3 separate regions of the Homo sapiens genome follow, and regions 1 and 3 are each linked to region 2. Evidence: fine-mapped expression QTL. A gene starts in region 2. Each other region holds a variant in brackets. All regions are shown on one strand. Distances are between the middles of the regions.

Region 1 (10,805 bases), 190 kb after region 2:
ATCCCTGTGGGATGTGCTGATTTTGCTAATGCTTTTAAAGCCAGCAATGAGTTGCGTGTGGAGGTTAGGGAAGAGATCAGATTTTCACAGGTTGTTCTCAGTCCATTGAAAATATTGATCAGTTAAAACAGTAATGTTCAAAGTATGAATCATAATTTCTTAAATCATCCTCTCCTTTGAGCTGGGACTGGAAAAAGAAGAAATCATCTTCATTCAAAATACTGAAACCCTCTGAGTTAATTTGTACCAGTGAATAGGATTCTCTTCCCCTCAACACTCATATCCCTAATTATTATTTATCCTCTAATAAAATACAAGGTAGTTACGGTGAGGATGCTTATAGCCAGTGGACACTGAATGCCTAGTTAGACCATTTGTGATTCTCAAACCGGGTTGCACCCCAGAACCTGTGAATCTGACTCTTGGGGGTGGTACCTGGCCATGTGTGTTTTTAACAAGCTTCCCAGGTGACTCTTACAGACACTGAATTTGGAGAGTCTGGTGGTCTTCACAACTGACAACTCTAAAAACCTACTGGTGCAGTAGTTTTCTAAATTTGTTTAGAACTTAGGATGCCTTTTGAAATATAACTAACTTTTGGGTTCTCAAACTTTAGGTCTGAGATGGGACCTAAAGTTGCCTCTAACAATTTCCCATGTAGTTCTAATACACACATAAGTTTCAGGGACTGCACTAGTATATTGTAGTATTGCAGAAAGGCAGGGTTTTTCAAATTCTGTTTAGGTACAAAATGATTCATAGTCAAATAAATCTGAGAAATGCTGGAAAGTTAAAACATTGTATGTGTGTATTTTTTTATAGCTTTGATTTTTCAGAGCCTAGAGCACACTAGGGTTTTATAGAATACTGTTTTGGGGGGACTTATGGAAAGAGGGCAATTCTTGTCCTCTTGTTTGTTCAAATACTTGACTAAAAGGATGATGCTGGACTCGTGTATGCCCTGGCACGCTGGCTGAAGTACTGTGTGTTATTGATACTCTGCCTAGGGATCTAATTTGACTCTTCTAGTTATCTGTATCGCAGTCAGGTGTTGACAAAGCCATCTTGATCTCTGTTCTTATTCACTGCTTCCCCCAAACACTACACATTTCTTTGTAGCATTTACCATAGATAATAAAGTGTATGCCTTAGCCAGTGATAGATGGCCCCTGAATTTATTCTGGGAATTGCGCAGAATTTAATTTTTCTATTTCTATTTTGTAAAATCAAGAATTCTGGGAAGCAGAAACCATTAAAGTCTTAAATATCTTAAGACTAATACCTAATTTTGAGTTACTGATTTTGTTTAATCCCCACAGTAACCCTGTAAGGCAGGTGTTCTGATCCTTAGTATTTACAGATGAGGAAACTAAGGATGAGAAAGGTGACATAATTTAGAGCTGAGACCTGAACTTTGGTCGGCTTGAGCCTCCAAATTTATCATTTCTTTTCTCTTCACCATGTTGCCTTCCTTTCAACTATATAAGGGCAGTGGAATGTTTACTGTGGAAGGTACTCTAGGACTGAAGACAGATACATGTGGTTAATTCTAACTTTATATCTAAGTATCTTTGTGTCTTTGGAAAATTGACATAGCCTGGGTCTCACTTTAAAAAAGTTACTGATTTTCTTAGAGACACGGCCATGTCTGTCACCCAGGCTAGAGTGCAGTGGCATGATCATACCTGATTGTAGCCTCAAAGTCCTGGGCTCACGTGCTCTTCCCGCCTCAGCCTCCCAAGTAGGCAGGACCACAGACATGTACAGATAAGCCTGGAAATTTGTTTTATTTAGGCAAGGTCTCACGGTGTTGTCCAGGCTGGTCTCGAACTCCTAGGCTTGAGCAATCCTCCCGCCTCAGCCACCCAAAGTGCAGGGATTACAGGCTTGAGCTACCATGCCTGACCTCACTTTTTCTCCACTAAGTTTATAGTGCTTTCTAGGCCGCCTTGTCAGCGTATTAGGAAACACTTGTGAACATGGAATGGGGTGTGTGTGTGTGTGTGTGTGTGTGTGTGTGTGTGAGTGTGTTTAAGATAAAGCACCATGTGTAATTGTAAGGAGAGAGGAGGTATGGTGTCCTCATTTTCCCAAAAACTTAGGCAAGTTTTAAATGGTATCAATGAGAGTTACATCTGCAAGTATTTTAGTTGCTATGGAGTGACTAGCATGTGACAGTACTGTGTGACAAGGTGTAGAAACGTCATCTCTTGGGTGACTTGCAGCTGGTGACATTGCAGAATTCAATGATAAGTTGCGGAATTCAGGATCTCTTGTGGCAGGACCCAGAAGGCGGTTTGATCATCAATAGGGCAGGACTTTTCATACCTCTAGTGAATAAAGGGGAGGGGAGAATTCACGCCTTTGCTATTATTGCCACTTTACTTGTATTTTGTTCTTATTTTGAGTGGCTAGGGTAAAGATCTTTTAACTGATTTAAAGGATGTTTAGTTTTTATTTTATCAGCCCTAGTTCCAATGATAGGAATTCAAAATGTAAAACTTAGACTGTCTAGATGACTTGATTATAGTTGAAGGAGAAATTTTAAAGCGAGCTTGAAGAATGGTGCCAAAGTGCATCTTATTTTCTGCAGACTCCGAAGAAAGGAGTGTATCCTCTGAGGGGAAGTTCCAGACTGGCAGGTCTATTTTGGCTTCAGGTATGCTTTTCTAGTTATTGAAGTGATAAGGTTTTTTTTTTTTTTTTCCTGTCTCTCCATTCTCCCTTTTCCTCCTTCTTTATAAAACCAGATTAATATTATCTATTATATGCTTTAGAAATAATATTAAAGAATGGAGCTTAAATTGAAACTTCAAGAGCTGATTGATTGGATCGGCTTGCCATTTTTGGAGTGAGCACATGTGCTGGATGGGAGTGAGGTAGTGCCAGGACCTAGGAGAAGCACATTTAAGCAAATATTCTTGTGCTGTAAACTTTAAAATACCTGAACCTGGTCATCTGACATGGATTTTTTTATTTGAGAAGATGAGATGTACATGGGGTTAATATACTAGGGAGGTCAGCATATGACTTTTCCGTGGTGAATTTCATTCTGAAATGTCAGTGTTCTCTGAAAGTCATAAAACATGAGTGCAAGCTGTTTTCTGAGTTCATCTCTGATATGCAGCTTCTTGAGGCAGATAGTTGGGAATTGCTTAGTGGTTCACACTGATAGCTTATGTCATTTAGGTCAGGAGGCAGAGACTGTCGCTAGGGAGATATTGGCGTAGGAGGGACAGTTTGACACAGGACATCACAGCCAGGTCACAGACTTTTGCCATTTTAAGAGTTGAATTTGAGGATGATTCTACTTTATTCTCGCACCAGGTGGAGTATTGCTCTTAAGAGTATGTTTGTCCAGCTTAGGGGGTGGTGAAGGGGTACTTGGAACACACTCCCGGGGATGGACTGTACTACTACTAAAGGAACAACACAGGTTGGTTCTGCTGTCAAGTGATGCCTGAATGATGTCCTTTGGAGAACTGGATGGGACACAGGACAGACTTTATTTAGGGCTATGCATCATACTTCTTCTTAGGATATTTCTTTGTATCATGTACAAGACCTTCCCATGGCCCCTTCTCAACCAAAGTTTCTGTGTAGAAAAAAACCTTATTGTGTAAATCTAATAGCTTAGCAAAAGTTGGAATGCCTGTTTCACAAAGAGTGTGTTGCATGTAGAAAAGATAGAAAGTAAATAGGAAGTAAACAAAAAATTATCAAGGTGGTGAAACAAAGAAAATTTTTTTTCTTTTCTGAAGGACTTTTACGTCTTTATTGTCTTTGCTAAGGGTACTAAGGTGCATTGTGACTCTGCAGTCGGGGGCTTAGAAGTTAAAGAACTCGATTACTTGCCAGTCTTATTTTTTCTTAGGATGGAGGTTGTCCTCTAAGCAACCATTTGTGTGTGTGTGTGTGTGTGTGTGTGTGTGGTGTGTGTGCATGTGTGTGCATGTGTGTGTGGGTATTCCCTTCTCAAAACACTTGAAGTGAGAGGCTAAATTATGACTTAAAATCAAAATTATTATTTGAAGCCATGGGTATAGAAGTTTAAGAGCCACCTGGAATTGGAGCTTTGTTATTGGGGTGTGTGTGTGTGTGTGTGTGTGTGTGTGTGTGTTGTGGGGGTCAAAATTTTGGAATTAAAATGACATTGCTATTTAATATTATCTGCAGCAGTGTTTGAATTAGCTGGAATAT[T/C]GTTCATTTCCATAGAAACTGGTCACAAATGAGAAACAATATTATTCAGTTTTGTTAGGAAAAACTCAAGAGCTTGTAATTTTGTTAGGCCTTGATTATAAATACTGGTCTTAACTAATTCACGCAAATTTCATCCAACCTGTAATTTTTTTTCATGAGGAATAGTTACCTATAATCTCAAGGTGCAGCTTTTTGGAACCTGGTATTATTTTTTTTGGAAAATGAAAAAGTAAAATTCTAATAATAATCTCAAATGTATTCTTAGTCTCTAATAATAGCAGTGCTTACAAAATATCATTCTCATTTAGCTACACTGAAAAATAGCATTTTAAAAGGCGTTGAATAGAGAGAATTTCTGTAGCTTTTTGAATGGTCTTGTTTGAGGAATTGGCCATAAAACTTTAGAATTAAATGTCAAAAAAAAAAAAGAATTTCAAAATACCTTGTTTTGCCCAAAGCAGAAGGAATTTTTATGCCGTCATTGTTTGAATGTCATGACCTATAAATGAAAATAAACAGAATAAAATCTTGTTTTTAAACATTAAACGTTAGGCTGGGTGCAGTGACTCCATGCCTTTTATAATCTCAGCATTTGGGGAGGCTGGGGTAGGAGAATTACTTAAGTCCAGGAGTTCGAGACTAGCTTGGGCAACATCATGAGCCCCTGTGTCTACAAACATTTTAAAAATTAGCTGAGCATTGTGACTCACGCCTGTGGTCCCAGTTAGGAGGCTGAAGAGGGAGGATTGCCTGTGCCCAGGAGGCTGAGGCTGCAGTTCCGCCACTGCACTCCAGCCTGGGTGATAGAGCAGGATGCTGTCTCAAAAGAGAAAAGAAAACCAGAATTAAATGTTACTGAGTTTTAAGGCAACTGCATACAGCAGACTGTTGTATTTGTGGGTTCCACATTGGCAGTTTCCACCAACTGGAGATGGAAAATAGATTTAAAAAAAAAGAAATGGTTGCATCTCTACTGAGAATGTTCGTATTTTTTTCTTGTCATTATTCCCCAAACAATAAAGTATAACAACTATTAACATAGCATTTACATTGTCTAGGTATTAAAAGTAGCTTAGAGATGACTTAAGGTATACAGCAGAGTGTATATAGGTTATATTTAAATACTGAGTGCCAGTTTATATCAGGGACTTGAACATCCATGGATTTTGGTATTTTGTAGGGGAGTGTTCTAGAACCAGTACCCCACAGATACCAAGGGATGACAGTACTAGTGAAAACAAACAACATCAAATTTTTTGAATCTAAGATACTATTGATTGGGAGATAAGTCAGTATCTTAATTTATTATATTTTATATTTTACATATTTAAAAGTATATTTTCATATATTTTCTGCTACTGCCAGAAAAGAATATGCCATTTCACTTGGAGAAAATGGTGTTAAATACAAAATCAAGAAAAAAAAAAAAAAAAGGAAAAAAATGCCAGCAATTAACTATGACACAGTGCTTTCTCTTGGAGTTTCTAATAATTCTTAAACTTACAGATTTTTACATACAAATGACTTTGGCATATTCTCGATGCTTGCCTGCATAAATAATACTTTTGTCTCAGTACCTTTTATAGCATCTTTTTGAAGACACTGTAAACATCAATTAAATCAAGATTAAACCAACAGTATAATTTTGCGTTGTGCACAGGTAATAAAAGTCTGACAGCCACCTGGCTGCCAGGGTTCACACTGGTTGATGCATGAGAAAACCATTCTGGCTGGGTGCGGAGGCTCACGCCTGTAAACCCAGCACTTTGGGAGGCCGAGGCTGGCAGATCACGAGGTCAGGAGATCAAGATCATCCTGGCCAACACGGTGAAACCCCATCTCTACTAAACAGACAAAAATTAGCTGGGCGTGGTGGTGGGCGCCTGCAGTCCTAGCTACTCAGGAGGCTGAGGTGGGCGAATCACATGAACCCTGGAGGCGGAGGTTGCAGTGAGCCAAGATTGCGCCACTGCACTCCAGCCTGAGCGACAGAGTGAGACTCCATCTCAAAAAAAAAAAAAAAAAAAAATCCATTCTAATTTTAAAGAATTTGAAATATTTAAAAAATGTGTCTAGGAACTAATGAAATATGAATTTGTATTTACATAGTTTTGCCAAAAACAGCACTTTTGCCTTATCCCTCTGGAGAGGTTCAGGGGAAGAGTTTGGGGAGGGCTTTTTTTGTTTCTATTGAGTAGCATCTCTGGCTGCTTCTGTCCTCATCCCCTCCCTTCATGAAGGCTCATGATCTGGTTCTGAAGGATTCTTTTTGGTGATTCAAGCTGGTTTGTGCTGCCTGTTACTTTATCCTCTCCTTTAGACTCTGTCTTTTTTAGTTTCCTTGAAAAATACTTGTCAAAGTATTTGTTGACTAAACCTACCCTCTGGAAAGCCTGGCTTTGTCAACAGCTGTTTACCTTGTCATCTCTGCTGTATACAATGGTGCAGTGGACAAAAAGTGTTGGATTTGGAGTCAGGAGTTCTGTCTCTGGGTACCAGTTGTTTTGATATGAACAGTCGTTAGGTAGTCTTGCCGGGAAGTTCTCCAGTTCACTTTCTTAAGTCCTTGTGGCCTAGAGGTAGGTGCTTGTCCAGATTACTCCACAATTCCTCTGGATCACATCAAGGGTCTCTGATGTAACAGGCAGACATGCCCTGAATTCTGCTTGTTTACCTGTGAGCCCTGGCAGGGATGACTTTTCCCCCCAACCCACCTGCCCCCATTTATCAGTCCAAGGGGATTCCTATTTAAATTTACTCTAACAATCTGTTAGGAGGTTCTGACTGTCACTAATATAAGATTATAAATGTAAAGGCCTTGTCACATTTTAGAAAGCCAGAAAATGCAATGTTTTTCTTCCCAACTGATTTTAAAGACTCTTCATTCTTTCTTTCCTTTTTTTGCTGGTTGTTGGGGGGGGTATGGAGAGGACATTATTCACTAAATTTGTTGTCTACTGGGTCTCTTTAATTCTCAGTTTATTTGCAGAGCAGATTGTCCTGTCTTGTGCCCAATAACTGAATCTGTTCCAGCTTATGTCACTAACCTCTTTTTACCTCCAAAATGCCATGATTTCAGTCTTAAAATACCAAACACTTTGAGATTGAGTTAGATGGCAGATAACATCTAATTCACATTAAAGAACACAGCGCTCACCCTCCTCGCCTTACAGGTAGTTTGGTTCTAGGAGGCGCTAGTGTGAAATCAAAGGGCAAAGTAAGATCATGTATAGCTCCCTAAAAAAAAAAAGTAGCTCCCTACTTTAAAATATAATAAATGAAGGGAAGGAAAAACTAGTTTAAAAGCGTAGAAACTGACAACAATAGTTGTCTTTCATAAAGGTAACGTAGGCTGGACACGGTGGCTCACGTCTGTAATCCAAGCACTTTGGGAGGCCGAGGCGGATGGATCACCAGAGGTCAGGAGTTTGAGACCAGCCTGGCCAACATGGCAAAACCCCTTCTCTACTAAAAATGAAAAAAATTAGCCAAGCGTAGTGGCAGGTGCCTGTAGTCCCAGCTGCTAGGGAGGCTGAGGTGGGAGAATCGCTTGAACCGGGGAGGCAGAGGTTGCAGTGAGCCGAGATCGCGCCACTGCACTCCAGCCTGGGCGACAGAGTGAGACTCCGTCTCAAAAAAACCAAAACCAAAAACAAAAAACGTAATGCATATAATCTATTTAGTAATCATGGTTTTAGTTTTCTTAGGTTAGATATTAAGAGCTGAAGACCTTCCCCTCTTCACCGCTGCATTCTGTCCACTTTGCTTTTGCCACTTTTTCACGTTGCTCCCCATTTGGCAACAATAAGGGATAAGCATTAAAAGATCTGCAACATAGAGAGAGCTCATTGGCAGATGATTTCCGCTGATCAGAGTCTCTAGATTCCGTAATAAGGAAATTGCTTACAATAAAACTCAGAAACTTTCAGCTTTGTATACAGATTCATGAAAGAAAACATTTGAATTACTGCTTTTGGGCATCTTCTACTCAAGTTGATAGCTGCATTGAGACGAGTACACAGTTGTTTGACTTTTCCTTTAAGCTTCTTGCAATTTGATTTAGGACAGTTGTACTGAGCGTATGTTAAAGCCCAGCCATTATCCAAGGTGCTGTGTTAGAAATTTCATTAAGATAAGGATTCAGCCTTAGAAAAATCACAGACTAGCCCTCGGGGCACAGTGCTGGGGAGAGTATGCTCTGAATCCATGACCTACAGGGTGAATTAGGTGATTGATAAGAGTCTGGACCCTTAGATGATGTGATGGTCATGGAGAGGTACTGCAGAATTACAGGGGGAACTGCGAAACAGCCCACGAACTTTGGAAGCTAACATGTGTCTAAAGTACATATATGATACTAATAACCTTTTGTAAATTGTTGTACCTTCTCCGATTGTGGAAGTTGGAGAATCGGCAGTTAATTTTGAAGCTTCCAAGTGATTGACTACTTTGAAATTGTAAGTGAATTCAGGCCTTCCTTGGGACTCTTTAACTCCTCTTCCCCTTGCTCACTCCTCTCCAGCCATGGAGGCTCCTCTGGGCCATCACTTAAAACTTACCAAACGCCATCTTGCCCAGGCCTGCATTTGTTTGAAATGATCTGAAGATAGCTTGCAAAGCCACATCCTCAGTTCCTTCTATTTTCTACTCACATGGTACTTTCTGAGTGCTGTGAATAAAATAGCAACCCCTCCCTCTCCTCTTGCATACCTAGCTATATTTATCTCCAAGGCACTTATGAATGTCACTGTCTGAGTGTAAACTCCTTGAAAGCAAGGACTTTCATCTGTTGATGCTTTATTAGACCTAATATTTACCTGGAACAGTGTGTGAGTCGTAACATGTTCAGATATTTGTGGGAGGGTGAAAGGCAGGAACAGAGGGAAAACTCTTCATGTATTTTATTGTTTCTCTCTCTTATTAGAAGGTAAAAGTCCACAAGGGCAAGGCTGCACCCCTAGCACTTAGAAATGTGCTGGCACATAGTCAATGTTTAAATAAATAATTGGAGTGAAAATTTGTGCAGGTTTGGTTGTGTATACTTAATTATGCAACCATAGTAAACACATATACAGATGTCCTTTAAAAAGTAGAAATGTTTGTTCCTATATACACCAAAGTTATGCGTGCAGTATAACCTGTAGTAATATCGGTTAGAAAGCCACATAGCTTATTAGTTAAGAGGCTGAATGCACAACTGCAGCCGCCATTGCTGAGCCCCAATCCCAGCTTTACCTCCTGCTGGCAGAATGGTCATGGCAAAGTTATTTAACTGCACCATACCTCAGTTTCCTTTTTTGTAAAATGGGAATGATGGAAGTACCTATCGTAAGGTCAAGGGCATTAAGTGAGTTAGTATAAAGTGCTTAAAATAGTGTATTAAACAGAGTAAACATTCTGGAATTCTTCATAAAAATATGTTAAGACAAAATATTTATTGATATTATTACTAATTCATTCATATTGGGTACTAAAGAGTGGAAACGTCCCCTGTTAATCCCATAGCCCCAGATGAAGATGACCCTTTGGATCTGTCTCCAGGGGAGCTGGAATATTTTAAAGAGATGAAAGCAGGAAGTGACAGAGATAGGATTTTATTTCCTAAGGGGAGGGTCTTACTCCTTGTATTCTTGCCAGGGTACTAATTCTTTCCTCTTTTTTAACATTGCACACAAAATTAAGTGAATCCAAGAAACCTTCCCTATATCGCATAGAGCAGCTTTCAGTGTAGTTGTAGTAGGTAGCACTTAGGGGAAACTCAGTGTAGAGAGGATATGTTGTCAGGCTGCTGCTGTAGAAACTGCCTGTAGCGTGCATAAAGAGAAAGTGAAGTTATGTGCAAGGTGAGACCGTACGGCCATGTCGTCAGTGGGTGTGTCAGCAGGAGAGGGACACTGCAGAACAGATACGCAGTTCCAAACACGCCAAAGAGAAACACAGCAACGCCTGTGCTATAGGACACTGGAAAAGGTGTCGTAAGAATTTGAAGAAAGGGGCTGGACGCAGTGGCTCCCTCTCATAATCCCAGCACTTTGGGAGGCCGAGGTGGAGAGATCACTTGAGGCCAGGAGTTCGAGACCAGCCTGGCCAACATGGTGAAACCCCATCTCTACTAAAAATACAAAAAAATTAGCCAGGCATGGGGGCATGCGCCTGTGATCCCAGCTACTCGGGAGTCTGAGGCAGGAGAATCGCTTGAACCCTGGAGGTGGAGATTGCAGTGAGCCGAAATCATGCCACTACACTCCAGCCTGGGCAACAGAGCGAGACTCCATCCCCCACACCTCCAACCCCACAAAAAAAAGAATTTGAAGAAAGGGCAGAATATACCAATAGAGATGGTAAAATTTGGACATTATATAACCATAGAAAATATTTGTTCAGCCTCTTGTATCCCAGAAGATGGAAGAGTTAGAAGAGAAAAGGGGGTGGGAGCAATGGGAGGCCAGAACTTCTCTAATATTCCCTGGCTAGATTGTAGCATTTATTACCTAATCAAGAAAGGAGAGTATTTGATCAAACTAAATTCATATTTATAAGTATATTTTACCTGTGCACTAGACAGGAAGTGAGTATTCTAAGGACTGGTGGTGGTGTGGGTACCC
Region 2 (10,805 bases):
GTCAAATTTTTGATGTTCAGACACACTTGATTCAAGAAAAAGTATTTTCTCTGGTTTTGGATCAACACCTCTATCTTTAATGCCCAAACAAATTCCAAGTGGCTCTCCACCTCTACCTTTTGCAAGATGTTCTCAGCTTCAGATTTATTAGCGCATGCGTGCTTTCATGTACACACACATCTACATATCTCTTAAGCTTTCAGTCTAAAACAATGAATTGACTATTGGAACATTTCTCTTGATTCAAAATTATATGTTTTTTCTTTTATTGAAGTAAAATTTATATACGAGCAATGCACAGCTTTTAAGTGTAAAATTCTATGAGTTTTGACAAATGTAACATCACCCAAATAGAACACCTGCATCACCTTAGGAAGATCCCTTATGCCTCATTTTTTTTTTTTAAAAAGAGCATTTAATATTAATCATTGCATAAAAAATGAAATGCCTTGAAATCCTACAGTTATATATGAAAGAAACTTGAGAGGTCTTCCAAAATTTGAAAACATATTAAAAGTGTAAATGTTATTATCAGTAATAAATGCGAGGGTGGGATTTTCCTAAATTGTCAATAATAAAATTGTGATCAACCATGCTAGAGAAAAGACTGGGCTATCTATTCAACCCATAGAAAATGTCACACAATCAATCTACCACTTCACACCCACTAAGATGGCTGTAATCAAACACAAAAACAATAATGAGTGTGGGTGAGGATGTGGAGAAATTAGAACCTTCATACATTGCTCTGGTAGGAATGTAGAGTGGTGCGGCCACTGTGGAAAACAGATTGGAAATAAAGTTATACAGTCACGATATAACCCACAATTTCTACTCTAGGTAGAATGGAAAAGAGAAATGGAAACATAACAGCTACATGAAAACTTGTACATAAATTTTTATAGTAGTGTTATTCCTAACAGCCAAAAAGTAGAAACAACTGAAATGTCCATGAACTCATAAATGGATCAATAAAATGTGGCCTATCCACACAATGGAATATTATTTAGCAATAAAAAATGAAGTTCTGATATATGCTACAATATGGATGAGCATTGAAAACATTATGATAAGTGCAAGAAGCCAGTCACAAAGACCACATATTTTATGATTCCATTTATATGAAATGTCCAGAATAGGCAAATCTGTAGAAACAGAAAGTAAATTAGTGTTTGCCAGGGACTGAGGGGTTTGGAGGGAAAAGAGGAGCGACCGCCAATGGGGATAGGGTTTCTTTAGGGGATGATGAAAAGTTTCCAGAGTTGACTGTGGTGATGATTGCACAAATCTGTGAATATAGTAAACACATTGATTTGTACTCTTTAAATGGGTGAGTTGTGTGGTATGTGAATTGGATCTTGATAAAGCTGTTTTAAAAAAATCTTTCCAATGAGATTATCAAGAGTATGTAGCCAGGCTGGGCACGGTCACTCATGCCTGTAATCCCAACACTTTGGGAGGCTGAGGCAGAAGGACTGTTTGAGGCCAGGAGTTGGACACTAGCCTAGCCATATAGGGAGACCCCATCTTAAATAAATGTAAAGTTAGCTGGGTCTGGTGGTGTGTGCCTGTAGTCCCAGATACTTGGGTGGCTGAGGTGGGAGGATTACTTGAGTCTGGGAGGTAGAGGCTGCAGTGAGCTGTGATTGCACCACTGTACTCCAGCCTGGTCAATGGAGTGAGATACTGTCTCAAAAAAAAAAAAAAAAAAAAGTATGTAGCCAAAATACTTGAGGAAAAAGTATTGCTATGGCTTGAATGTCCCTGCCAACATTCATGTTGAAATTTAATTGCCATTGTAATAGGACTAAGAGGTGGGGCCTTTAAGAGGTGATTGGGTCATAAGGGCTCTGCTCTCATGAATGCTGTTATTAAGAGAGTGAGTCAGTTATCTAGAGAATGGGCTTCTGACAAAAGGATAAGTTTGGACCCCATTTGCTTCCCGTCTCTTGTGCTTGCTTGCTATGTGATGCTTTCCACCATGGAACCACCCTCACCATGTGCTGTTGCTGTGCTCTTGGACTTCCAGCCTCCAGAACTGTGAGAGATTCATTTCTTTTCTTTATTAATTACCTAGTCTGTGGTATTCTCTTATAGCAGCAGAAAACAGGTGAAGACAAATATTACTGAAGTGTTTTAGGAAGTTTATTACTACAAAATATTATGTAGGTGGTAGATAAAACTATTGTGTGATTTTTCTGGATTTGGTAATGTTTGTGGGATTTGTCAACTCTTAGAAATTTGTATTTGAGATTTTTGTCATTCTAAATAAACGTTCATGTTGTACTAAAAAATAAATATTCAATAATCTGGGCTTTTCAGTGACCTTCAGAAATAGGAAGGATTAACTGTATGCATGAATAATACATGATGGAATTTCATCTTCCTTTTCTTCTTTTGACCTGCAGTATATAATGTCTTGCCTACTATATAGTCTCTCCACACCACATACATTAGGGCTCATGGGAAGAGGTGGGGGAGGAATATGTTATTGGATAAATATACACTAGCCCATGCCTAGGTGGTCTGCGTGCCTCCTTTCTTTTTTTACCAAGGCGGGTGCTTGTGTATTCTGACACTGAACTTGAGCACTGGGGGCTATGGTAGCAGAAATGGGGATTCTTACTTCATTTTTAATATTTCCAAAAGCCTAACAAAATATTTACACACAAAATACATGCTGGCAAAAATGAAATGTCAATGTTTATTTGATTTGCTTTAGGCTTCATTGACTTAGTAGTGGTAACACTGGCTAATTTATGCTGATCAGAACCTCTAACCATTTTATCTTTGATTATTTATAACTGGACGAATGAATGATTATTTAATAGATGTGATCAGCTTTATAAGTACAATCTTAAAATATTTTGGCTTCAGGGATAAAACCAATTAAAAATTTCCTTTGCGATGGAAATTGGAAACACATTTCTGTGGCTTCACTTATGAAATGCTCCTCTATTGAACATTCACTATAGGCCAGGAGCTTTCCTTAATTTATCATGCTAATAACACTTCTGTATGGCATTATTAACCCAATTTTATAAATGAGGAAACAGAGGCTCAGATTATAGATGTCTATGCCCAAGTCCCTTAACTAGAAATATCAAGTAAATCTATGTCCACCCTGCCTCCTATATGATTACTTTTTTTTGTTTGTTTATGAGTTGGTTAATTTCCCAGGTAAAGGCCAGTAGGCCAGTGGTCAAGCCTCAGGGTAGCAACTACATTTTGTACTGGGTCTTACTTTTGATGCTTTGCCAACAAAACCGTCAAGGAAGGCAGGAGTTGACTGGGAATAGGCACACTGGGACTGTCTCTGTAGGGTATGTACGCAAGGGTAAAGGGAGATCACAAACGAGAAATATGCCTGTATTCGTCCATTTTCACACTGCTGATAAAGACACACCGGAGACTGGGCAGTTTACAAATGAAAGAGGTTTATTGGACTTGCAGTTCCACATGGTTGGGAGGCCTCACAATCATGGCGTAAAGCAAGGAGGAGCATGTCACATCTTAAGCGGATGGCAGTAGGCCAAGAGAGAGCTTGTGCAACAAGCGCTCCCATTTTTAAAATCTTCAGATCTCGTGAGACTCATTCACTATGACGAGAACAGCCCAGGAAAGACCCGCCCCCATAATTCAATCACCTCCCACAAGGTTCCTCCCACACACCTGGGAACTGCGGGACTTACAATTCAAGATGAGATTTGGGTGGGGATACAGCCAAACCATATCAATGCCCAAGTGACTGGGGTGCTTCCAAACCTACACAGCTGCTCACACTGCTGCTCTGGCAGGGGGAGCATGAGCTGCGGACGTTTTTCTGAAGTTGGAGTGAATTTGTATAAAGGCATACACTCCCTCATGCTGGCTCCTCTGGTGGGTGTCCAAGGCTTCCTTTGATAGATGCAGATGGGGCAGCCAAGGCAAAGTAGGTGACTTATGTGGCCTTGGTGCATCTCAGCTATGCTCACCGGGCAGCCCATGCTGACATGGTGGGCGAGATCGTGGGGCCACCAGGGAACCTGACTCCACTCCCATCTCTAAGCTTGGCCAAGTCAGTCACTTCTCGTTATTGGGGCGTCTTCTACCTGTCACTTGAAAAAGACTGTTCTTTGGAACAATAAGGCGGTAACACATACACAGGACCACCCTGTAGCCGGCCACACAGGTTCCGCCTCCAGGTGCTTGGATCTACTTAACGGACCTCCCAGGGGGAAAGATTTGCGGTCTCTCCGTCCCTCTACCAGGGGAGGGCGCCGTTCCAGCCCTTGCCTCTGCGGCACAGATCAAAGGACGGAGGAAAAAAGGTGCGGGTCCGGGGCACTAATGTTCGAAAATGCAGTTTTAAGTGACCTCTCCCCGCGCACGCACTGTCGGTGGGGGCAGTCCCGAGGCCAGGCTGCGGGGCGCCTGGGGGGACTCGCCTCAGGGGGAAATGGCCCTTTCAGGGCTCGACGGGTCCCCGGGACTAAACGCTCCGGCCGCGGATCGGTGCCGGGGGAGCCCGGTCAGAGAGGCCGGGACCCCGAGGGACGCCTAGGTGCGTGTCCCGAAGCCCGCGTACCTCCAGCCCCGGCGAGACGGCGCCCAACTCGCGGCTCCAGTCACACGGCCCTTCCTGAGAGGAAACACCAGGGAAAGCACCTCTCACTTTTCTCAGGGTGGGAAAACTGTGAAGGAAGAAGACAAAGCAACAGGCAGGTTTTCGCTCGCGGGCTGGAGGCTGGGCCCAGGGCGGGCGCGCGGCTGCGGGAGGCAGCGGACGGTCCGGGCCGCTCGAGGGCTGCACTGCGAGGGTCTGGATCGCCTCCAGCCTCCCCCGGAGGCCCCGCCCCTGCCCTGGAGACCCCGCCCCCGCCTCGGAGGCCCAGCCACCTCCCCCCTCCCCGAGGCGTCGGCCCCGCCTCTCCGCCCTCCGCCCTCCGCCCCCGGGGCCCGCCACCGCCGGCCCGCCTGCGCCGCCTTCGCTTTGACGTTACTGGGGGCCGGGCGGGCGGCTGCCGCGGGCTCGCAGCCTCGCCAGCCTCCGCCAGGGTGCGCGCGGGCCGCCGCCTCTCGGCAGTCCCGGGAGCTCAACAAAGAGCACGCGGCGCTGGCCGCCGGCACTCGCGCCCTGAGGCTGCGGCCCCGGAGCGCCCGGCGGCGGTTTCGGCGCGCGGCCGGGCTGGCGATGGAAGATGGAAGGAAGGAGCGCAGCGGTGAGCTCCGGGGCCGGGGCGCGGGCGCGGGGTGCGCACGCGGCGCCGCTGTTCGACGTGGGGTTTGTGTTGCTTTGTCGCCGCTCTGTCCCCCAGGATCCCGGGGCCACCTGGGTTTGTGCTGTCTGGATAGGTGCAGGGTGCGATTTTTCTCTTCGCGCTTGCTTGCTTTGTGTTTTTTAGGAGCCCAGCAGGGTCAACTTTGTGGTGTTAAGGTTTAGGGGTTTTAGTTCATACCTCGGCTTTGAAAACCTCAGACTTTGGAGAAAAGCTATCAAAAGAAGGCAACATGAAAGAGGACCTCGTATGCCGATCTTTCTTTGCCCGGTCAGCTTGTATTTAGGGACTATCACGTTTCTGTCAGAAAGAAAGAAAAAAAGACTAAACTAAACAAACTTGAATTGAGCGAGCAAACGGACAAGGGAAGATTATTCGGTGCAATTCCCAGGAGCTTTTACAGATGTTTAAGTCATTCTGTTTTACATGCATTTAACTTTATCCGCCGTTTTCAGCTTTCCGTTCTGGCGAATGATGTTCTGAATTTTTTTTTTAAACACATTAACACCGATTAGAGGACGTGGGTTTAGAATGTTGTTGGTGACCTAAATAATAAATGTTTCGTTTTGCCATTCCCCTCGATGTCAAAGGATGTTAAACGCCCACTAGGCAGAGGATGGAATGGGCACCACGATTTCATTTTCTAGACACTGGTTCTCCCGATAGCGGGATCCAGGATTTCCGCTCCAGAATAACTCTTGAGTGGGTCCAGGTGTTGGTGTAGGGAAGACGGAGATCTGGAAAATTACTGTAAGTGGGATTCTGGCAACAAATGCCTCAATGCGTTCGTTGTAATTGAGTATGTGCAAAGGATTTTGCAAAGCCCGGTAGCTAGGTAAGTAGGATAGGATTTCTGCTTTCAAGAAGCGTGCTTGAGAGCTTGCCTGGGAGAGACTTATGCGTAGGCTACCATGGAGGATCTCAGAGGAAGCTTCTGGCCTCCGGGCTTGGAAGTTCTCAGAGAGGAGCTGGCAGTTATGCTGGACCTTGAAAGGGAGGGGTTGATTGGATTTTTGTGAGATGTGAGGGAAAGGATGTCCCCTGCTAAAGGAAAGGGAATTCACTTTCTACCCTTTTCCAAGAAATGATCCTTTCTTTTCTGAGAGTATTTACAAACCAAGAGGTTTTCTTTTCAAAAAGTCATGAAATTCCTCTTCAGCAGTTAAAAGTGCAACATGCTCAACATCACCAGTTAAGCAAATGCAAAATAAATTAGCACCTTTTCAACCAGTTTTTAGTGGCTGGCTGGATGTCCTTCCACAACCTTTTTATATCCATCCACAAGTGATTTGTCTTGTAAGATATTTCATTAATAGAAGCTTTTTGTACTAAAAGGAGTAGAGTGGTATCAAGAAAGGGACTTGGATCTGTAGGTAGGACACCTAGCTTAGAGGCTTTGCCACTGACTGGGTGAGTTTTTGCCACCGTCTTGGGCAAATTATTTAACTTCTGTCGCTACAGTTTCCTGGTAGGGTGAGGGGATTAGGTAGATGCTCTTTCAGAGCCTTCTAGCCCTACCATTTGATATTTCCATGCCTAGACACGTTTTATGCATTACTTATTCAGTGATGTACTCTTAATTTCACATTCTAAATATCTGTTTGTGTGTTCTGTGAATGGATCAGCACTCTTATCCTGACCATTGAATGTGGGAGAGTGATTAGAGCTACAAAGCTAAAATAACCTTATTACGGCCAAATTCCGTGGTTGAATGTTGTTGTTGTTTTTTTTTTTTTAAATGCGAGCATAAGAAGCTTGATTTGCCAATCTTAATGTGTGTTTTCTTTAAAGAAAGTTTTGTTGACACTGTTCATTTGTGACCAAAGAATAACATATACCTTATTATGTACATTGCACTTAAGCAATTCAATTCTGCTTTTAATCAGATACTAGTAATTTAAAAAATTGAGTAACCTTGGAAATTCTTACAGGCTAGTAAATCTTGGGAATTTGGAAATAAAAAAATAAAGTAAGATGGAAGTAGCTCATTGAAAAAGAAAAATTTAAAGGTACTTTCAGTCAATGGCTCTGCCCTCTTTCTAAAACCTTGATATTTACATATTTGTTTGCCAGCCCTGATGGAAAATTATTTGAGTGGAATTTAGCGTGGCATTACATTGAAAAAACATGTCCATGGTACTACTACTTTTGGAGGTGATTTTTTTTCTTTTATAGAAATTCAGGTGTGATTTGTCATGCATTATTCATAAACTAAGACACCAGTGTGGTGATAGGTTAATTGCAGTCTTGGTTAAGAGATGCTGAGGCAAAACCATGTGAATATTAAAATGTGTATCTGCTTTGGCTTAAAGACTGGTTTGTTTGAGGTTTACATGGGGTAATGTCATTTGGACATTATGAAAAGAGTGTCTTTGGGTTTGGGTTGGATTGGGAGGTGAGTTATGGATAGTGATCGTTTCCAATTTTTGGAAAGGAATTCAGACATGATTGAAGTTGGGTCAGACTGTAAAAAATAATCTGGTGACCAAAGTCTGTGGAGTTTAGTATGTGAATCAGGCTTATAGGAGGCTGGGGATCTAGTGTGACCTTGAATTACTGCTGTTGTGATTCTCACCATTTAGGGGTTCTTCCCGGACCGTCTGGGCCAAGCACAGAGGTCCTTGGCTTCCCTTTGCTAAGAGTGGAAGTGTTTTCACTTTGAATATTGCCTCTCAGTTCTTCCTAGTTCTTTTACAGTTAAACCAGCCTGGCTTTCATTTAGGAGAGTACAGGATCCATGTGAAATTCTCCAGAGCATTTGTTCGGAGTGCCCATATCTTGACAGCTTGTGTTGTTTGTGATATTGTATGCAGACTCAGGGATTTGCTGGAAAGAATTTAAGTGGTGGCATTATTTTTTCAAAGAGTGTTTCTGAGTTACGTTGACCATCTTTCAAGGACATTTTTCACAAGCTCCAAATTAAGTAGTGTTGTAGTGGCTGTTGCAATTTACAATGGAGAAAAAGGATAATTTGCAGCATATAGTTAACAAGTTATTCTTAAATCCAAATTACCAAATGTCCATGCCTCATTTGAAAATAAGGCATAACTCAACATTAATAATGAATCTTTGCGTGTGCTATCTTATTTATATAAAAACAGTGCATGTCCCTGCAGTGCTTGTTTGCTCTACCAAAAGAAAGGTTTTTCACTGCGCCCAGAAGGTCAACAAACTTGGGCCCAGTTGGTGCCTAGTGGGGAGGGACTTTGTTGACACATCAGGGCACAGAGGTGGCAGAGCATTTTCTCTCTTGGTGACACCGGTGGTGTGAGGGATCCGCCCGCTCTTCTCCCCTTCCTGCATGTCAGGCTGCGGCCATGGCAGACCACTCACTCCTTGAGGCTTACTTGAGGACCACTCACTCCTGAGCCATCTGGTTTGAAATTCCCTTTCCTCTGAGTGTACATCAGTGAGATGAATCAGAATAATTTATACATGTTGAAGGATATTTTTAAAAGATTATTATTGGAGTTAGGGATTTAGGATAACTGGGAAAATTAACATTTTGACCTAAGCTGGTGTTCTTTTCTTACATGGTATTTTCACACGGGTCTTCTGAGAAAGCAGCATTTTCTAAGTTTCTTGTTAAGTCCTGATTTTTCTGTTGTTGTTGTTGACACAAGATCTCACTCTGTCACCCAGGCTGGAGTGCAATGGTGCGATCTCAGCTCACTGCAACCCCTGCCTCTCAGACTCAAGCAATTCTCCTGTCTCAGCCTCCCGAGTGGCTGGGACCACAGGTACACGCCACTGCGCCCAGCTTAATTTTTGTATTTTTAGTATAGACGGGGTTTCATCGTGTTGCCCAGGCTGGTCTCAAACTCCTGAGCTCAGGTGATCTGCCTTCCTTGGCCTCCCAAAGTGCTGGAATTACAGGCATGAGCCACCAGGCCCGGCCAAGTCCTAACTTTTGGAAAACGCTTATTTCGAGTGATATTTTCCTGGCATGGGGCGTTTTTACAATCACAGCTAATGTTTATTGAGTTCTTACTTGGGTTGTCTCCCTTATTCCCCATGACAACCCATGAGGTCAGTAGTGTCATTATTTCCATTCTGAAGTCAGGAGAGGTTAAGGAACCTGCTCAAGATCCCACAGTGAGTAAGTGGCAGAGCTGAGACTTTAAACTCAGGTCATCCAATTTTCTTAACCACCATTCTGTTTTTATGTCTCAAAGTTAGCATTGCGTGTTGCAGAAACTGAGCTCTTTGGCTCTAATATTTAGATTATTCGAGTCTTGGAATCTGAATATTGGATGACTAATTCATCACCGACCATTATACATTTGTTGGCTTAATAGTGGGACCAGATTTGTTGTTTGGCTCAAGAGATAGAAATGGTGTAATTAAACAACAACAACAAAACCCCTGGGGTGTCTAAAAGGATCTCTGTAGGACCACATGTAAGGAGTTCCACGTAGTTATGTGTCATTAATTGGAATTCACAATAAAGCAGATTAACAAATTAAAATGGAATGTATTTTAATTTCTTTTTAATTTCTAATTTAATTTCTAATTGCATCACCTCAGAGAAGTGATCTAGATGCTTCAACCACAGAGGGTGTTGACACAGTGAAGGCTGCTTTTCCTTGTTATTTCTTCCCATGAGCTGGGGCTTAGAGATTGTTAAGAAAAGGAGCTTGAAACAATGAGGAGGAGGATGGGGAATGAGCCGAGGGCATTCATAAGACCAGGCGGCAGCTGCTCCCTGTTTCCCTGGCCTTCTGTTCTCAGACCTTTGCTAAGAAAAAGTGAATTATAGAAATCGAGCAGCTTGGTTTTCTTATGCCTGTTTGGTCTGTGGACAAGAGAAGTAGAAAATTTTAATAGAAGCAGCTGTAGCTTCTTTTGTTTGGCCTCTAGGAGATTACTGGTTAAGGGCCAGTGGAACTGCTTTTCTCTGTATATGGAAACTTACATGCTTTTTTGAATGTAGATTTTCAAAAACTTGTACTTTCAAGAAGTTATTTGATAGGCACAGTTTTGATTGAGTCATAGGACACTAGGAGAGTGGAAATTTAGGTATAAGAGTGATGGCACAGACGATGCCATTAGATGGCTGCTGTCTTCGTGACTGTGTTATTTTCTGGCGAAGTTATATTGGAAAAATGCTTGGAAATTGACAGCAGGCTTTGTGATCTTCCAGAGTGTCTCCTCTGACTCTGCCTTCATGTCCCTACAAGGTGCAAGTAGTGAGTGTTTGAAGAGGCAAGATATTTCTTGCATCTGAAACTTTGTTTGAATAGCAAAGTTACTTTTGGGCAGATTTTTATGTTTCGCCGATTCATTTCTAGTGGCTACAAAAGGTCTGTCAGCCACCTTCCCCACCCGCTGATGCTTATATCTCCCTATAAAAATCTCCCTTGGCCGGGCGCCATGGCTCACGCCTGTAATCCCAGCACTTTGGGAGCCCGAGGCGGGTGGATCGCCTGAGGTCAGCGGAGTTGAGACCAGCCTGGCTGTCATGGTGAAGCCTTGTTTTTACTAAAAATACAAAAATTAGCTGGGCATGGTGGCAGGTGCCTGTAATCCCAGCTACTTGGGAAGCTG
Region 3 (10,805 bases), 42 kb before region 2:
GATTAGACTTTGGCATGGAGGCATATTTCACACTGCCAAGATCTATTGACATTTGTTGCTGTTGTTGTTGTTGTTTGAGATGGGGTCTCACTCTGTTGCCCAGGCTGGAGTGCAGTGGTGCAATCATGGCTCACTGTAGCCTTGAACTCCTGGGCTCAAGCAATCCTCCTGTCTCAGCCTCCTGAGTAGCTGGGACTACAGGTGTGTGCCATCACATCTGGCTAGCTTTTTGTTTTTTGAAGAGTTGGGATCTTGCTATGTTGCCCAGACTGAGACATTAATATGTTAGAGTGGAGCTATATATAAGATCTATAGACCTCTGTGGTTACAGATATAAGGAAATCAGTAAACCTAAAAGTAAACTGTAGATACCTATATATTGGTAAATAGGAGGTATTGATAGCAAAATCTCTTCACAAATATTCCTAAAACTGTTTCTTGGAAACTCATTTCATTTTTAAAGTTTTTTTTCTCTTTTTCAATTTTCCTCTAGTCACCTGAATCCACATAATCCTTAAATTCCAAAACTTAAAAATGTATTCATTTCCTTCAGCTGATGTTATTCACAGGTGAGGAAGAAGAGAAACTGCATCTCAGCAAAAACCTGGATTTTCAGAGTTAGGGCCCTTCCTACATAATACGACATAAAAGCTGTCATTTGAAAGGTCAGTGACATTTAAGGGTGGACTTTTGTCAAAAGCACTTATTTCAAGCCCAGATTTGACAGCAGCCCGTGCAGGCTTGCTCATCCATTGATTTCCAAGTCCTGCCCCATTGCTGGGGATGCAGCTCTCTGCACAGAGCAAAGCCAGAAGTTCCAGTGGTTATAGAAGACAGAGCCTGGTAGGTGCCCTGGAGAGGAGGCTGGGCAGATAGAGCTGAAGGGCACCCTGGCAGGTTGGGAAAAAAGCAAATGATCCAAGAGAAAGGCCATGAACTTTCTGTGAATTGTTTATTTCCTGTCTCCTTTATCTTTACAATTTATTTTCTAACCTTTCTTCTTTTTCTTGTGGGAATGATTAAAGGTCTCAACTCAGTGCTTTACAGACGTAGAAATTTTTTAAATTTCTTGACTAACTGATAGCAAACTTTTGTTCTCATAATCTCCCTGTCTAGGCACAGGGGTAGGAGAAGGAGGGATCTGATGTTACCCAATAAAGTACTTTGGTCCCACCTGATACTGGCTTAAATCTTAGACTTTTCTAAAAGTTTAGATTGCTGGGGCTAGTTTCTTGTTCTGCACCAGCTGCTACTGGTGCTGCTGGAAATAGTGTGTTTCAGAGCTTGGTGTACCCTGCTTTCCTTGTGCTTCTCATGAGCTCTCCTTTTTTTCCTTTGAGTTCCATCATCCGCAGAAGTAGCAACAGAGATGGAGGCTAGAGGGACATCTTCCTACGCAGGTAAAGGGGGTCTAAGGAATTGAGAAGCTTGGGTGTGGTCCCTCCTCTGCTGGCCCCTGTTGTGGCACCATTTCCTGGTTTGATTCCTGGCACTGTGAAGCAGACTCACCCACAACTGGGTGTTATTTGGATGAGAGACTTTCCGATGACTTAGATTCTGGTGATTCTGCTTTTCATGTCTCTGCTAAAGTGGAGATTTCTGTGTGGATGGCATAAGGAATTTCCATGGGCAGCGTTCAGCCTCAATACAGCTAACCAGCCCAAAAGATCACTGGGGGACAGTCAATCTTTCCTGTGGCTCTTGCCAGCCATATATGCTATATCTCTTCAGGTTGGGTAGCTCTGCTTTGAAGAGTGAACGCGAGGGCCAGCTATGGGTGCCCATCCTTCAATTAACCTCACCTGGGTCACAGAAACCAGCTGAATATTTGCCTTGATTTCCAAAGCCATGGAGAACAATGACAACATCCTCACTTCCTCTTTCCAAGGTGCTCCACGTGATGGCTCCCTCTCACCCTACAGGCCTCGGTACTGATGAGCCACTAACCATCAAAAATAGCTAGATAAGGAGCTGGCACTGTTCTCTAATTTCCAGAAACATCTCCAAACTTCAAGAAACTTTTGTACAATGTGCTTAATCACCCAATTTAGGGAAAAGGAAGAGATACAGGTAGAATTTAAGTTGGGCCTAGCTGGTAGGGTAGACAACACTTTTTTAAAAAAATTATCATACAGTAAAATTGACTTGTGTCTGTGTGTGTGTATGTACAGTTCTATGAATTTTAACACACATATAATATAAATGTATATAAATTATATATAAATTTTATATACTTATATTGTATATGCTATTATATATTATATATTACAATGTAATATATCATATAATTTTACATTATAGATTATATTATAAATATATTTATATAAATTTGTACAACTATCACCAAAATCAGGAAACAGAACTGTTATATCACCCAAAACAACTCATTAATGCTATCCCTTTATACTTATACTTTCTCCCCACCCATAATCCCTGGAAACCATTGATCTGTTCCTCATCGCTGTAGTTTAGTGCTTTCAAGAATATCAAAACAAACGAAACCACAAAGTACGTAACCCACTGAGACTTGTTTCTTTCACTCAGCAAATCTCAATGATTTTGAGATTCAACCAAGTTATTTCATGTATCAACAGTTTGTTCCTTTCTGCTACTGAATATTCCACTTACAGGTGACCCTTAGTTTGTTTACTCATTCATCCTTTGAAAGACATGTTAGTTGTTTTCAAGTTTTGGTGATTATGAATAGAGGGGCTGTAAGTGGTCCTGTAGAGGTTTTTGTGTGAATAGAAGTTCTCAGTTCTCTAGGGAAAATAGGAGTGGGATAGCTGGGTCATATGATGAGCGTATGTTTAACTTTTATAAAAAGCTGCCAAACTGTTTTCTAGAGTGGCCCTGTCATTTTGCACGCCCACCAGCAATGTATGCGAGAGCTAGTTTCTCCACATCCTTGCCAGTATTTGATATTTTCTTTTTCTTTTTTGCCATTCTAATAAATGTGTAGTGGTATCTCATCATGGTTTTGGAATTTATTTCACTAATAGGTGTCCTTATAACCTATTTGGGGTCTTGGAGGCCCTCTTCTTTGGGGGCATAACTCTTTAGTTGCTAGATGAAGCAAATGTTTAGCAGGGTCCCAGAGAAGGGGCCAAGATAGGAGGAGAGGTGGGGTAAGGTGGCTAAGGATGGTAACTATTTACAACCAGTATGAAATATTTCAATATTTAACAACTGGTATAGCCAAACTAGTAGAGATCATTGAATGTAAGTCCTGGATCTTGCAAAGAACACAGAAGGCGTGACCAGAGTGGTGGGCAGAGGTTTTCGTGTCATAGAAAACTGAAGGGTTAATTGTGTTTCATGCTGCTGAGATGAGGCCATGTGGAGACCTTGACAAGAGGTCAAGAGAAACTTCCATGGAAAGATGGGGGTGAAACCAAATTCTAGTAGGCTGAAGAGCAGTATGTGTATACCACTCTTGGAGTGAACGAGAGTGGTTATGAACAAGAGTAGAGAAATTTCTTGTTCAAATTTGATTATGAACAAGAGTAGAGAAATGAGGCAGCGGGTGGAAGAATGCATAAAGAGATAGTCAAACATGTTCATATGCCAGTGAGAGCAGTACAGGGAGTATGTGCTGTTGATGCAGGATTGAGGGGTTAACCAAGGGGAACCAGTTTTAAGAAGGAAAGAGATGAAGTAGCATCAAGAGCTCATCAAAAGCTAGCTAGAGGCAAACCGGCGTATAGGTTTGGTGATAGCAAGATGAAAGTTCATACCCTTATCAGACAGCTTCTATTTTCTTAATAAAAGTGTAAGCTGAGCTCATCACCCACAGCTTGGGAGATTAGAGGGAATTTTTAGAGCAGAACAAGCTTCTACCTAACCTCTTGTGAATTCTTACACAGTGAATCCCTTTATTGTATTCTTTTTATCTCTATTTCTTTTTACTTTTGTCTTTGTTCACTTATTTTGAATTCCTGCCACTAAGGAAGGGGTCAGCAAGGGATATTTGGATATATTTGCACCAGACATGTAATCAGGGTTCACTTAGCTTCCCAATGTGGAACCTAGAAAACCAGCGACAGAGTTTGGAATAGTTGATGAAGGAGCCAAACTGATAATGGAAAATGTGCACAGACATAATATGTAGTTTGGAGCCTTAATGGAATGTTTGCTGCCTGTTGAAATTTGGAAATGATAGCAACTGCTTTGCTAATATGATTTCAACTTAGACATATCTTCATTTGCCCATGCATTTTTCATGCTAATTAGATTGTGTACATGGAATTTGTCCATGCTTTCCATCAGGAGCCTTCTTTTTTCTTTATAATTGTACAACGTGTCAAAACTCTGACTTCTCTTCTACTGAAAGGAACAGTTCCAAGAAATTTTTTTAAATTAAATCCACATATTCAGACCCAGTTTCTGACTGGCTCGATCAATTATGTTATAGGAGGGTCAGTTTTATTTGCAAAGCTGCAACCATTAACTGCCTGGAGGCCATGACAGGTTTCTTTTGTGGACTATTTTTTAAGTTATAGATTCTACATTGAAATAATATATTTTGTCTGCCTGTATTTGAAAACGATCAAAGAAAAGGAAGTTATCCCACGAAGACGTTACTGCAAGTGATCGCATTTCAATGAGATTAAAAGTCAAAGAATAGCAACAAGGGGCAGAGTATTTAACACTAAGGAGAAGAAAAGAAGTCAGACTGACATAAAGATTTTTCAAGATAATAGAGTTATGTTACAGCAGAATGTGTCTTTAAGGAGGTGTGTAGCAGCATTTTTAATAAGAGAACAGATAACCTGGGAAAGTAGTGTGTTCTCCTGACATATGCATCAGCAAGGCTGAGTGTTGAATTGCATTGATTTCTGTGTCTACCTTTGGTGAACAGCTTTCCAATCAAGTTTAATGTAATCTGAATACAGGAAAAGGAATCACTGCCAAGATGAAATCTCTGTCGCCACAGGTCACAGCAGGAGGTGTGAATTCAGTGAGGTTTGACATTTCAGTGCACTTGTCTTAATTGTGTAACTTTGCTTTGTCAACAGTCTGTATCATGAACACCAACTATACTTACCCTTTCTAAACCTTTTGCCTATTCTTGGTATCTTGACCTTAAAAACCATAGCTTAGTCCTTTCTCCCAAGGATTAATGATGCAGACCAGTGAAAAAAAAGTCTACAAATCGGCCGGGCACGGTGGCTCACGCCTGTAATCCCAGCACTTTGGGAGGCCGAGGCGGGTGAATCACCTGAGGTCAGGAGTTCGAGACCAGCCTGGCTAACCTGGTGAAATGCCATCTCTACTAAAAATACACAATTAGCTGAGCGTCGTGGCGGGCGCCTGTAACCCCAGCTACGTGGGAGGCTGAGGCAGGACAATCACTTGAACCTGGGAGGTGGAGACTGCAGTGAGCCGAGACTCTGCCATTGCACTCCAGCCTGGGCAAAAAGAGCAAAACTCTGTCCAAAAAAAAAGAGTCTATAAATCATCTAGGACGTAAACATGTCATTAGTTTTGTATGAACTGCCTCTTGGGTAACCATCCTAAATTAAGCTAGGCAAGACTATTCTATGGCAACATAGCAACATCTGGCTCTCAGTGGATTAATGCAACAAAGGCTTATTTCTTGCTCATGCAACTCAAGTAAAGAGAAGAGAGATCAAGTAGAGGAATCAGAGCTTTTCACTGCCTTGGCCCAGAAGTGACAAATGCATCTCACATTGTCTAGGAGAAGTCACAGTGCTTTGTCTACCTGTACAGGGGTGAACAGGTAGTCTTCCCTGTGCCCAGGTGAGCACTAGAAGTTTCTATCACAAATTTTCTTTCTGCTGGTAATAAATAATAACATATATGTCTATAGTGTATAATGTATATGATATTCTAATTTTCTAATTGACTTAGTTTAAAGGTTCTCCAAGCCTAGAATTTCAGGTCTATCAGGATTTAATATTGTTTGTGCTATCAGATGTTATCAAGCGATAAATTTGTTATTATGATTCTGTTTTGAGAATAGTTTCTTTAATCTCAGTTTTACAAAATAGTTTTACCTCACAGGTATTATTAATATGAAGTTTACCAAAAATATGAATTCCTTGGAATAAATCTGGCAGATATCCAAAGGTAGATTCTTTACTGCATTTTCAGCATATAAAAAATTACGGCAGATGTGGGGAAGAAAATGGAGATGGTAAAAATAAGTAAATAAGTTGAATCCATGACAAGATGATTATAGAGCTCTGGGAATATCATTTTCTCCTTCCCTTCCTCCTTTCCTTTCTTTTTTCTTTCCCTCAACAAACATTATTCAGTCTCTGACATATGCTACAAGTTCTTCCAGGCACCAAAAAGATGATCATAAACCAGGTAGCCATTGTCCCTGCATTAGTTTGGGTAACACGGGATACTCTCACAGATAA[A/G]CTCCTGAATCTCAAGGGCTTAACAGAATGGCAGTTTCCTTTAAATTCCTGTACAGTCCAAAATGTGTGTTTCTGAGCTGTGGGAGGATGTTTTCAATCAGCAATTCAGGGGCTAGCCTCCCTCACTTACATGACTCCATCAATTCAACATGTAGCTTCCAAAGCACTGGATGGCAACAAGCCCGCGGCAGGAGAAAGGCCCTAGAGGATCCCATGAAGGGGAGTTTCAGGGACCTGGTCTAGCAGTGCTGTACATCAGGCCCAAGTACCAGTACAACTTACAGTCAGAGGAGAAGACACTTAAAGGACAGGAAGAAGTAAGCTCAAGGAGTCCTCTTTTGGCTTAACTAACCACTAAGGTGAAAGCCAACCAAGTAAGCAGTCTTGTAACTCCAAGACTGCAACCTTCCTTAGGTGAACAAAAATCAAAATTTCATTCATTCATTTGTACAAATAATTATTGAGTGCCTTCTCTTCCGGGCACTTTTCTAGGTATACAGAATACTGCAGTGAACAAAACAGAAAAAAATCCTTCCCTCACAGATCTAGTGATAAAGTTTAAGATACCATTAGCATGTCACTTTTTTTTTTTTCTTGAGACGAAGTCTCACTGCAATTCTCCTGCCTCAGCCTCCTGAGTAGCTGGGACTACAGGCGCCCACCACCACCCACCTAGCTAATTTTTGTATTTTTAGTAGAGACGGGGTTTCCTCATGTTGGTCTCGAACTCCTGGCCTCAAGTGATCCGGCTGCCTTGGCCTCCAAAAGTGCTGGGATTACAGGTGTGAGCCACCACACCCGGCCTGTGTTCCCTCTTGATTAGGCTTCAGATGTTTTTCCAAGTTCATCTTAAGTCTCTTTGTTTCCTTACTTCATCTCCTCATTTGATAAGAAATGAAGCTTTCTCTAAATCACTCTGTCCCAGCATTCTCTCCTGTGAGATTTCATTTTATTCTTTTTCTCTTTCAAGAAGAGAGGAGTGGGTGTGTGCAGCAGGGGGCAGGGGACGCAGTGCGGAGGGATGATTCTGTCCTCAGCACTTGTTCCAGAGCCACCACACATCCCCATTTGTTCCCACCACCTGCCTTTAAGACGTTACTCCAGTCATCCCCTGTGCGCCATAGACCCACTTTCACCTTCCTAAGATGACTTTAACACTTGGGATTTCTGTCTGATTGAATTTATAGTGAACCACTGTGGTGAAAGCCTGCCCAGTAAGTCACCTTGTCACTCCAAGACTACAACCTCCTAGCCACTCACCCTCCTAGGGAATTTCCCTAAATTTACCTGTGTGGCCAAAGCCCTGGCTCCAGGCTGCTCATCTCCTGCCTGACCTTCCACAGTGTGAAGGCTCGAGGTGGGGAATTTGTCATTGTCAGTAGGAAGTGACACAAGCAGGCCCTCTACAAGTAAGCCTGGGCAGCTTGGCTGGACTTCCTCTACCTACTCACATTCAAAGCTGCACCCAAGCACCTGTCCCTCCCCAGTGTGCCTGATTTTCAAGTCTTGGGGGCACCCAATGGACCCACCCACCCACAGCTTAGGGGGCTCAAGTCCTGACCTTCAGCCGTCACCAAGATTGGCAGCAACTAGACTCCTTCCCCCTTTGTGTAGACAATCTGACCCATTCTGATATTACCGAACTCCTTTCCCAACTTGGACTTCCGAATTAGCTGAATTAACAATGAAGCCTCCACCCCATTCCTCAAGATCTGAGTTTAGGTAATAAAGCACAGCTAGAGAAACTACAAGAAACAGTTTCCAGACTAAACCAATTCTCAGCTCTTGACACTTTGCTTTGCTCATTTTCTGTATTTCTTTTCTTTTTCTTTTTCTTTTTTTTTTTTTTTGAGACAGAGTCTCGCTCTGTCACCAGGCTGGAGTGCAGTGGTGCGATCTCGGCTCACTGCAACCTCTGCCTCCTGGGTTCAAGTGATTCTCCTGCCTCAGCCTCCTGAGTAGCTGGGACTACAGGCGCATGTCACCACACCTGGCTAATGTTTGTATTTTTAGTAGAGATGAGGTTTCACTGTGTTAGTCAGAATGATCTCAATCTCCTGACCTTGGGATCCGCCCACCCCGGCCTCCCAAAGTGCTGGGATTACAGGCGTGAGCCACCGTGCCCGGCCACTTTTCTGTATTTCTTTAATGAACTTTCTGACTTTCTCACCACAGTGGCTTTTCTGGACCATCCTTGCTCTCTTCCAGCCTCCACCTTTGCTTCCATCCAATCTTGCTCCTCCCTGCAGACCTTGCCATGGAAAGCCTGAAATTGGGCAAATTGTGGACCCTGGCACAAATGCCCCCTTCCTCATTCTCCATCACTTTGATCTAATTTTATTTCTACATCTGTCCTCTCTTTTTCTTGTAGTATCAGTGGAAGATATTTTCCTATTCCTTCCTGGAGTTAATTAATCTACCTGTGCTCTGAATTTCTTCACGCCTGAGCTAAGAGATCTTACTCCTGTAGACTGTAATTTTTCATTAGTTCTTTGTGTTTTTCTCCCTGAAACAGATGTGTGAGCTCTTGTACTATGCTAGGTACGGTGGATACAATGATGAACCAAATGTAACCCCTGCCAGCAGTCTAGTAGGGGAAGATGGTAACATGCTAATCCCCCAACTTTGTTATAAATCAGCATGACACAATGACAAATCGTTCTGCAGGTAGTTACTGGAAGGAGCAATTATTCTGATTGGGGATTTTTATTTCCTCTGCTGCCTCAGAGCCAATTTCCACACTCCAGGAGCAGAAAGAATAGAAAGGAAGAAAATTCATGCAAACACACTCATTAAAACATTCACCCATTCAGAAAATATTTATTGAGTGCCTAGTATGTGCCAGCACTATGTGGGGTGATGGAGACACCCTAAGAAACTGCATTCATGGAGTTTATAGATAACTAAAGATGACAAGTTTTGATAACACGAATAAGTATAAGCTAAAAAGGGGCAACACTGAGTCATATGAGAGTATGTAACAGAGAGTGTAGTCTGATCCCAGAAAGCAGGAAAGCCTTCTTAGGACCTGGATAATGGAACTGAAACTGAGAACTGAAGGACGAGCGCTGGTTATCGAGGCAAAGATGGGAAGGAATGAGCATCCCCCGATTGGGACCAGAGGGAGGAGGGTCTCTTGGACCAGCTTAAGAAGCTGTGTGTTTATTCTAAGAGCCATGGAGATGCTGAAGGTCTTTATGCAGAGGTGAGACATGATCAGATGTGCACCCTAGCTGCAGTGTGGAGAGGTTTGGATAGACTCTGAGGATGTTGGAAGAGCACTAGAATTGGAATCTGGAGTCATATGTCTTAACATCAAATCCTATGAGCCTACAGATCTTAAGCAAACTCTCTTTCCTTTCTGAGGCTCTGTTTCTGCCTCAGGACACCATGACAGTTGGGAGAGAATGTGAGTGACTAGCTCCTGGCTCACGGGAGGTTTTCAGCCCACTTGTTTAATTCCTTATCTTTTTCTGTATTTTTTTTTATACTTTAAGATTTAGGGTACATATGCACAATGTGCAGGTTAGTTACATATGTATACATGTGCCATGCTGGTGTGCTGCACCCATTAACTCGTCAATTAGCATTAGGTATATCTCCTAATGCTATCCCTCCCCCTTCCCACCACCCCACAACAGTCCCCAGAGTGTGATGTTCCCCTTCCTGTGTCCATGTGTTCTCATTGTTCACTTCCCACCTATGAGTGAGAATATGCGGTGTTTGGTTTTTTGTTCTTGCGATAGTTTACTGAGAATGATGATTTCCAATTTCATCCATGTCCCTACAAAGGATGTGAACTCATCATTTTTTATGGCTGCATAGTATTCCATGGTGTATATGTGCCACATTTTCTTAATCCAGTCTATCATTGTTGGGCATTTGGGTTGGTTCCAAGTCTTTGTTATTGTGAATAGTGCTGCAATAAACATACGTGTGCATGTGTCTTTATAGCAGCATGATTTTTCTGTATTTTCTAAGCCTCTTAGCCATTATATCCTTGACAGGCGGGGATATGGGCATGGGCGTAGATTGTGAAGCCCACTGCATTTTTGTGGCTAGTTCTTTTTCTGCTCAGAAAGGACATTCTGGCACACTTCCAAGGCCCAGAAATGACAGAGTCATTTTAATTAGAACACTTTCTTTTTTCTAATTTGCAAATTGCAGTCCTCAAAGACTAACTTAGCAGAGCTGACATGGCCTCCTTGACCTACATTATAAGTAATGAGCTCTTGATCTAAGAATTAATGCAGTCTCCATCACGAGTTGATTGGCATGTTTGAACAAAAGTGTTATGTTTTCAAAGCCCTGGCTTATTTGAGACTTTCAACTTTCTGTTGAAAAGTGGTTGGAACTAGGAATTTTAATTGCTCCATTCCTTCCCTTGTCATGATTGGTTTTTATTAATGGGTTTGT

Direction of the effects. Alleles are on the strand shown, and positions count from the first base shown. SD is a standard deviation of normalised expression in the study named.
For the expression in atrial appendage of the gene that starts at base 5,061 in region 2, T is the high allele of the variant in region 1 and C is the other (small effect, 0.38 SD a copy in GTEx).
As copies of G replace A in region 3, the expression in thyroid of the gene that starts at base 5,061 in region 2 goes down (small effect, 0.23 SD a copy in GTEx).

What was found. PIP is the estimated chance that this variant, and not a neighbour inherited with it, causes the effect. A credible set is the group of variants that fine-mapping cannot tell apart.
Region 1: its variant is the best candidate, but not a certain one, in a credible set for the expression of PSD3 in atrial appendage (GTEx, PIP 0.69).
Region 3: its variant is the best candidate, but not a certain one, in a credible set for the expression of PSD3 in thyroid (GTEx, PIP 0.67).

What each region holds. Positions count from the first base shown.
Region 1 is chr8:18,815,000-18,825,804 of GRCh38, reverse strand. The region is part of intron 4 of PSD3 (pleckstrin and Sec7 domain containing 3); the gene reads left to right. Among named protein-coding and RNA genes, the nearest start is that of PSD3-AS1, 99 kb to the right of the region's middle. The variant T/C (reference allele first, on the strand shown) is at 4,201.
Region 2 is chr8:19,007,959-19,018,763 of GRCh38, reverse strand. PSD3 (pleckstrin and Sec7 domain containing 3) reads left to right here and starts at 5,061. Exons shown (of 16, transcript NM_015310.4): 1 at 5,061-5,201. The coding sequence starts at 5,181. It overlaps LOC124901898 (a long non-coding RNA gene), which reads right to left and starts at 4,761. Exons shown (of 2, transcript XR_007060840.1): 1 at 4,568-4,761. RefSeq lists silencers at 4,918-5,007, 5,078-5,177.
Region 3 is chr8:19,049,905-19,060,709 of GRCh38, reverse strand. It overlaps a transcript of PSD3 not described here. Among named protein-coding and RNA genes, the nearest start is that of PSD3, 42 kb to the right of the region's middle. The variant A/G (reference allele first, on the strand shown) is at 6,390.